Linked DNA regions of Homo sapiens: regions 1 and 2 are each linked to region 3. The links come from fine-mapping of genetic effects on gene expression. A gene starts in region 3. Each other region holds a variant in brackets. All regions are shown on one strand. Distances are between the middles of the regions. Region 1 overlaps TATDN2 (TatD DNase domain containing 2). Region 2 overlaps TATDN2 (TatD DNase domain containing 2). Region 3 holds the start of TATDN2 (TatD DNase domain containing 2).

Evidence for each region. PIP is the estimated chance that this variant, and not a neighbour inherited with it, causes the effect.
Region 1: its variant is the best candidate, but not a certain one, in a credible set for the expression of TATDN2 in whole blood (INTERVAL, PIP 0.70).
Region 2: its variant is the best candidate, but not a certain one, in a credible set for the expression of TATDN2 in prefrontal cortex (GTEx, PIP 0.70).

What each region holds. Positions count from the first base shown.
Region 1 is chr3:10,271,926-10,274,685 of GRCh38, reverse strand. All of the region lies in intron 4 of TATDN2 (TatD DNase domain containing 2), which reads right to left. Among named protein-coding and RNA genes, the nearest start is that of MIR12127, 7.0 kb to the left of the region's middle. The variant CCAT/T (reference allele first, on the strand shown) is at 1,343.
Region 2 is chr3:10,275,894-10,278,653 of GRCh38, reverse strand. TATDN2 (TatD DNase domain containing 2) reads right to left here. Exons shown (of 8, transcript NM_014760.4): 5 at 2,166-2,293; 6 at 192-375. Among named protein-coding and RNA genes, the nearest start is that of MIR12127, 3.1 kb to the left of the region's middle. The variant C/A (reference allele first, on the strand shown) is at 1,076.
Region 3 is chr3:10,247,329-10,250,088 of GRCh38, reverse strand. TATDN2 (TatD DNase domain containing 2) reads right to left here and starts at 1,630. Exons shown (of 8, transcript NM_014760.4): 1 at 1,022-1,630; 2 at 475-894. The coding sequence starts at 888. RefSeq lists an enhancer at 194-1,062 and a silencer at 1,315-1,744.

The sequences.
Region 1 (2,760 bases), 25 kb before region 3:
CTGGCCAGTTCCACTATCAATAGGTGGCTGGAGCCCCTCCTATTTGCATCTGCTAAGCTGTTCATCTGCCCTCCCCGACCCCTACACACAGGCAGCAGAGGTTTCAAGAGATTCCAATTCCAACATTTCATTCCTGCCTCTAAAAAATTATCCCTCAGAGTAGTGAAATAAACTATTAGAGCTTTAGGATAGAATATTACACAGCTGTTAAACATTTTTCAAAGTATAGCTGATGAATGGGAAAATTTCACGAGTAGAAAAGACACTTAAAACTATTTAATTTCCTAATTTCTTTCTTTAACACAAGCACACACATCCAACCTACGACAGGTGCATGGAAGACAAGCCACTGTGCAACTGTTCCTTGCAATTGTATTGTACCTTGCAATTTTCCAAGGAACAATAACATTACATTTATAATGTTTCATGAAACACATCCAGATTTCAAAAATGTTAAGAAGGAAGAAGAACTCATTAGAATGCAGGAACTTGTGGTTGGACAGGAGCTATTTGCAGCATTTGTCCTCACCAGGAACCCAGCTGAAAAACAACAGGAGTGAAGGAAGTACAGATGAGTTATTACCCAGTATAATTACTCACTTCTACCTGCATAAGGTTGGCTTCCTAACTGATCCATTATTTCCAGGGATTCCAGAGTTAGTCTCTCCTGGGAGTTGCCCCAGGCATCTCTTGCATATTTATTACTTTAATAATTAATTAATTCCTCTTTAACACAAGTAAAGAGATACAGCCTGGGTAGGGAAGGACAGTCTACTCTCCCTGGCATCCCTCCCAGATGCTGACATGTGCAACTTACACACAAACTATTCAGGATCTAACTCTTATGAGTTACATAGTTAATCTGTAAACACCACAGATCAACAAAGAAAACGTTAACAGTAATTTGCTCTAACCAGCAGAATAACTATAACTACCCATTCTTTCCCCAATTGTTTTGCTTTTCTCTATTTTCCAATCCTTCCAGAAAATTTTAGGTACATCAACCAAACTCTCCTATAATGAGCAGGGTCTGTCACCCTATCATCTTGCCCAGATACAGACCTTCCACAGGCTCTTTTTTTTTTTTAATGTAATAAAGATGGGGTCTCACTATGTTGCCTTGGCTCATCTTGAACTCCTAGGCTCAAGCAATCTCCTGCCTCAGACTCCCAAAGTGTTGGGATTACAGGCGTGAGCCACCTCGCCCAGCCCTCTATAGGTTCTTCTTCTTCCCTTCACAAGATAAAACATTCAGCAGGACACATCCAGAACTTGCTAACTGCTCTTTTAGGTAAATGCAACTCAGCACTGACATCCAACTAGGTGCAGTTGCCAGTCACCA[CCAT/T]TCACCTCATTTGGGTGCCAAATTTTTTATTTACATCAAAACAGTGTCCATATCCCCCACCCAGCCTAGGAGTCTCTGGTGTTGACAAATATTTTCTAGTCTTCCTCCCCTTTACAGGCAGCTTAGCCCTCTCCCAGCCAGCAACTCCTCAGACTCATTATCTTCCAGTCTTGAGTCAAATCTCACCAAGCCAAATGACATCTTCAAGACTGTGTTTATCCCCCTATGCCTATCGCTTCTAGTTCAGTTTGTTGTGCAGGTCGCCCCATGGACCTTTAAGTGCAGACCTGAGACCCTGATAATTTTGTCTTGAGACAGGGTCTCACTCTGTCACCCAGGCTGGAGCATAATCATGGGTCACTGCAGCTCAACCTCCCAGGCTCAAGCAATCCTCCTGCCTCAGCCTCCTGAGTAGCTGGGACCCCAGGCATGTACCATCACACCCAGCTAATTTTTTTTTTTTTTTTTGGTAGAGATAGGGTTTCACCATGTTGGCCAGGCTGGTCTCCAACTCCTGGCCTCAGGTGATCCGCTCGCCTTGGCCTCCCAAAGTGCTGGGATTACAGGCATGAGTCACCACACCCAGCTATACCCAGCTAATTTTTGTATTTTTAATAGAGACGGGGTTTCGCCACGTTGGCCAGGCTGGTCTCCAACTCCTGGCCTCAGGTGATCCGCCTGCCTCGGCCTCCCAAAATACTGGGATTACAGGTGTGATCCTGTAAATACAAAAAATTAGCTGGGCGTGGTGGCGGGAGTCTATAATCCCAGCTACTCAGGAGGCTGAGGCAAGAGAATCGCTTGAACCTGGGAACTGGAGGCTGCAGTGAGCCAATATCATGCGATTGCACTCCAGCCTGGCCAACAAGAGTGAAACTCTGCCTTAAAAAAAAAAAAAAATTAGCCGGGTGTGGTGGCAGGCACCTGTAATCCCAGCTACTCAGGAGGCTGAGCCAGGAGAATCACTTGAACTGGGGAGGTGGAGGTAGCAGTGAGCTGAGATCGTACCGCTGCCCTCCAGCCTGGGTGACACAGCAAGACTCCATCTCAAAAAAATTTTTATTTTTAATTAGCCAGGCGTGGTGGTGTGCACCTGCAGTCCCAGCTACTTGGGAGGCTGAGGTGGGAGGATCACTTGAGCCCAGGAGGTCAAGGCTGCAGTGAGCTGTGGCTGCACCACTGAACTCCAGTGTGGGCGACAAAGACCTTATCTCTGAAAAAAAAAGAAAAGAAATTCTAAAATACTACAACTCTTACCCTGCCAAAGCACTATGCTCAAAAAATATTGGGAGGAAAAAAAATATTAACAGGGGGCGGGCGCAGTGGCTCAGGTCTGTAATCCCAGCACTTTTCGGACGCCGAGGCAGGTGGATTACTTGAGGTCAGGAGCTCGAGACTAGTCTAACAAACATGGT
Region 2 (2,760 bases), 29 kb before region 3:
GTGGTTACCCTTCAGCTTCTCAGCCCCCTAGACTTTTGGTTCTGCAGAGTAACAGCAAGGAGGCATCTACACAGCCCAGGATGGGACCTGGAAGTCACTGGGGCTCTGGCCCTGCCAACCTTGTAAGGGTGACCACCCACCTCCCCACCCTCTCCCTCCGGTGCCTCCACTCAGCCTGAAGACCCCCTTACCTGGCGAGGGAGGAAATAGGGAGCATCCGTTTCCACGATGATTCTCTCCAGTGGGATCTGCCTCAAGGCTTCCCGGGCCTCCCAGGCAGAGGAGTATGTCAGCACTGCCGTGAAGCCCACAGACATGTTGGGAAAGTACTTCAGCAGGGGCTCAATGACCGGGTAGCTGCCGGTGAAGCAATGCCTGGAGACAGAACTCCACATCAGGGCTGCTCACAGTCCCCTCTGCAGCAGCCCCCAGCTCCCCCCACACCCATCACCCCTTTTCAATGATTCCCAGAAATGGAAAGACTGCATCCTAGGGAAGGACTCCACAGTAAACACAGACAAGGGCTGGCTCCAACACAGGAAGCCCCGAGATGGCACTTGGTGAGTGATCAGAGATCACTCAGAGATACCACGCACACCACAGAGTGCTCTGCAGTCCCCTGAGATGACCACCACAGAGAACACACTGGGATAGGAAATGCTTCTAACACTGAAGAGGAGCAAAATCAACAACTGTGGCCCCTATGATGACAACGACAGCATATAAAAACTATGCCCAAGTAGTCAAATGAACTGAAAGGAAATCTAACAAAATACTGGGGAGTCGAACTACAGGTGGATTTTCTTAATCTGATACCTGTTCATGTTCTTGGTGCCATATATATAGTTACCAATCTGTAAATTTAGGGCCTCCTCCTGCAATACCACCTCGTTGGGTCACCTTAGCCCTGGCCTACCAGCCACCATTACATTTCCTTCAAAGTTAGCCCAAAATGAAGTAATGAAAAACCAACCGACCCAGAAAAGCCAACTGACTGCCTCATCATTGGTGTGTGCAGCAGCCAGGGGTCAGAGGCTTCACTCATTCTGCTTAGGTACCCAAAGGCCCTGACAGC[C/A]CCATCCTCCTTTTTCTGCCATCTGACAAGACCCGATTTGGGTGCTAGAGTCCTTGTTATTCAGCCAACCCCTCTCAACCATCTTTAAGGAGCCGGCCAGGCATCACCTCCTGAGTCTTCTGGCTGGGCTATGATAATGGGCCCCTGCTGTGGCTCCCACAGCACCTATGACCACCCAGTCCCACATGCTATGTAGGCAGAAGCCACCATCCAACCTGTCTCCTGGCAGCACCTCCAGATGTCCCCAGAGGCAAGCCAAAGCCCAGGACCTACACGTGGCAAGAGTTCAGAAGTTCAGAGAGTTTACCAAACTGAACTTAAGCACCCATAGATGCCATTCTGATAAAACATGACCTTGATTTTCATAACTGGGGAGAAAGGAGCTTTCAAGTTCAAAAGAGGAAAGAAAATGTCCTTTCAAGTACCCTAAGATGCTCTGTGTGCTAAGCCACCACACCCCACAGCAACCTCTCAAGATCAGCAATCCTCACTGCTGAGAACTGAAACTCCATTTCTGCCCATCCCCAGGATGGGGGCACAAAAGGCCCCTTGTGCTCACTGGTGATTTAGGGTTATTAGTTCAAACCATACGAAGTTACTATTTTGTGAGCAAAAAAAAAAAAAAAGGTCAAATATGAGAAATTTCAAGTGGTTTAACCTAATAGTTAATTCTTTAGAAAAGATAGTGTATAGGCCGGGCACGGTGGCTCACGCCTATAATCCCAGCACTTTGGGAGGCCGAGGCAGGCAGATCACGAGGTCAGGAGTTCGGGACCAGCCTGGCCAACATGGCAAAACCCCGTCTCTACTTAAAATACAAAAACTAGCTGGGCGTGGTGGCATGTGCCGGTAATCCCAGCTACTCAGGAGGCTGAGGCAGGAGAATTGTTTGAACCCGGGAGGCAGAGGTTGCAGTGAGCTGAAATTGCACTACTACACTCCAGCCTGGGCGACAGGGTGAGATTCCGTCTCGAAAAAAAAAAAAAAGAATAGATAGTGTATAATGACAGAATACGATCATTGCTGTCCTCATCAACTTGACAGAGGAAGTGTTTCTTTCATTTGCCCGCTGAAGTTCCAGTCTTCTAACCTATGGATCTTGTAGTCAGGGGGCACAAACTTTTTCATGATTTCTAGCAGATCTTCATCAGCTTCTCGGCAGTGGATCACCAAGGGCTTCTTTAGAGACACAGCCAGCTGCAGCTGTCTCTCAAATACCTAGGAGAGGACACAGCGACAACCCCTGTTGGTTAGCAGCACTTCAGAAGTCCATCACCTCTGGAACGCCCAGTCCAGCAGGCACCCCCTGTGTCTCTCTTTTTTTAACTATATAATGTAATAATAGCTAATGATTATTGGTCACTTACAATAGAGCCAGGTAGTGCCCAAAGCACTGCACGTCTATCATAACCTGCAGTCCTCACAACCACCCTGAGGCAGGTGCTGCTGTCTGCGCAGCATGCAGTGAGGGCAAGTTAACTTGCAGCCAGCAGCTATAGCACCAGGATCCAAACTTGAACCCTGGCATTCCACACAGTAACCACTATATGATGCCGACCTGGGGTGGCAGGGGCAGGGCAGGGATCAAGAACATAAAGCGCAAAGTTAATGTCCCTCACCTCACTGTCCCCACCTCCGCTCTCAAGAGATACCAACTTCCAGACCTCTCCTATGCAGAGCTGTTG
Region 3 (2,760 bases):
TTCTGTGATTCAGAGTGGTTCAAAGTACAAGGGCACACAATTCTTTAAACTGACAACTAAAATAAATACATTCTTCTCTTGAGCACATAATCCACCTTCTACTGCAGTGATTCTCCAACGGGGCTGCACGTTTACAATAACCTGGGGAGCACTGAAAAATCTGGAAGCCCAGACCACACCTCAGCCCAATAAATCAGTTTCTCTGGAGTAGGAGGCAGGCCCAAGTATTTTAAAGCTTTCCAAGTAGTTCCAAAGTGCTGCCGAGTTTGAAAATTACCTCTCTACTTAACTTCAGGCCACGCGCCTGGAAGACTGCTAGGTCTTCGAGTTTGGGGGGAGTGGACTTCTAGAAAGACCTTCCAGACCTTCAAGGATGTAATGTTTTGTAGTCTCCTTCCACCAAAATTCCCATCCCCAACCTCTCAAGCCATGTGGAAGGGGCTTCACCGATTGCAAAGCGTGGCAGCCACCTACCTTAAGGCTGCAGGCTTCCTCCTCTAGAGAAGCCATTTCTTCCAAAGAGGCGTTGGCAGGACGCAGAGGGGATCCCCCTGAAGACAGGAACCCCCGAGTGTTCCGAATCAGGCAGCCTTTGGAGGCGGCCCCGCCCACACCAGGGCCCAAGAAATGTGGGGAGAAGGAGGAGGAGGAGTTATTTCTGCGGCGGGATGAGCCCCAGGATAACCTCCGCGAGCAAGCCACATCGTCCTCCTTCTGGGCTTTCAGGCGCTTGGGGCTGCTGGGCCCTCCAGAACGCGACGCAGACCTCTGAGCTGGCCGGCTGGAGGGGGCCACATCACAGGGCTCCCGGAGGCAGCTGCGCTTGCGGGGACACCCTTCCGACGTGCTGCTCCAGTTGTGCTTGACCTTGCCCCGCTCGGACGCCATGGGCACCTGCAAGGTACAGGGGGCCTGGATTCCAACACCACCCTTCCTGGCGACCCCACCTCAGATTCCCGCCACCCCGGGCCCAGGAGGACGGCAAGACATAAGGGCAGAGCCAGGGGCTAGCCTCACTGACCTTTCCCTCTTCTTTCCACTGCCCATCACAGTTCTCAAGGTTTCAGAGATGCCAAACCGTGTTGGAGAAGTCAAAGCGATCCAAAATTGACTAAAGGCTGCCGTCGGTTTCCAAGCCCACAACGTGCTTCTGAGATCAGGAAGCCTTCACTTTGCCCAGCGCTACTTCGGAGATGCCTAAGCGCTTCCGGGGCTACGAAGCGCTTTGATCAGTTTGCAATATAAAGCCCTTTAGAACTGTCAAGCGCTTCAGAAGACCACATGGCGCTTCAAGATCCACACATGGCTGCCGGATCCGCGGCCCCGGGGCCGGGCGCTTAGCCCGTAGGCCAGGGCCAGACCCGGGCGCCGCAGCCCGCCCTGCTCCTGCGGCCCAACCAGACCCGGGCCGGAAGGGGCCCGAGCGGCCCCTCGGGAGCTGGCAGCGCCCTCGACCGCCAACTCAGGACGCCCCCCGCCGGCTGCCGCAGCTGTCCCGCCGGGCAGCCCGCCGCCTGCCCCAGCCCTACAGCCCCGCCTGGCCCGGCCTCCGCCCGAACTGCGACCACTCCGGCCTCCGTGGCGCCCGCCCTCCGGAACGAGCCCTGCGGCCCGCAGGCCGGAGAGCGACAGGGGCGGGGCCTGCGCCAAACGGAAGGCGCCCATTGCTCGACCCGGCAAGGGGCGGGACTCCGAGCAAGACGCAGCCCGCCTCAAAGCCAGGCGCCTTGGAGTCGGGACGGTACGCCTTAGGAAGCTCGTCCATTGGTCAGAAGCCAGATGGGGCGGAGCCACTCACGTGGGCTCGAACAGCGGGAAGTTGAGGCCAGCCAGATGTGCAGGCAGGTGGTGTCCGCTGACGCGCCTCACTTAACGCTGTTTTCCTCAGCGCCGGCCGCTGTACCTGAAGCTTTCAGACCTGGATTTCTCATCGAGCCAAAGCAAACCGTGTACTGAGCATTATCACCCCACTTTATAGAGCAGAAAACTGTGGCTCAGAGAGACTAAGTACACACCCAGAAATGGGAAGAATTAGAATTAGAAGGCACCAAAAAAAAAAAAAAAAAGACTACACAAAAATGTGAACTATCCGCCTGGTGAAAAATATTAAAGACGGCTGGGCACGGTGTCTCACGCCTGCAATCTCAGCACTTTGGAAGACCGAGGCGGGAGGATGGCTTGAGCTCGGGAGTTAGAGACCAGCCTGGCCAGCATGGTGCGACCCCCATCTCTACAAAAAATAAAATTAGCTGGGCGTGATGCCAGCTACTCAGGCTGAGGTGGGAGGATCACTTGAGGCCGGGAGGTCGAGGCTGCAGTGAGCTGTGATCCCGCCACTGCACTCCAGCCTGGAGGACAGAGCAAGACCCTGTCTCAAAAAAGAAAAAAAATCAAAGACAAGGTACAAATTCAGAAAAATACTCGAAACATATGACAAAGGGCTGATATTCGATGTAGCAATTCTCCCAAAATAATAAAATAACTTAGTATTAAGACTGGCAAAGGAGGCTGGGTCCAGTGGCACACGTCTGTAATCCCAGCACTTTGGGAGGCCGAGGTGGGTGGATCTCTTGAGGCAAAGAGTTCGAGACCAGCGTGGGCAACATGGTGAAATCCTGTCTCTAGTGAAACACAAAAATTAGCCTGGTGTGGTGGTGGGCGCCTGTAGTCCCAGCTACTCAGGAGGCTGAGGTGGGAGGATCCCTTGAGCCTGGGAAGTCGAGGGTCCAGTGAGCCAAGATTACTGCCACTGCACTCCAG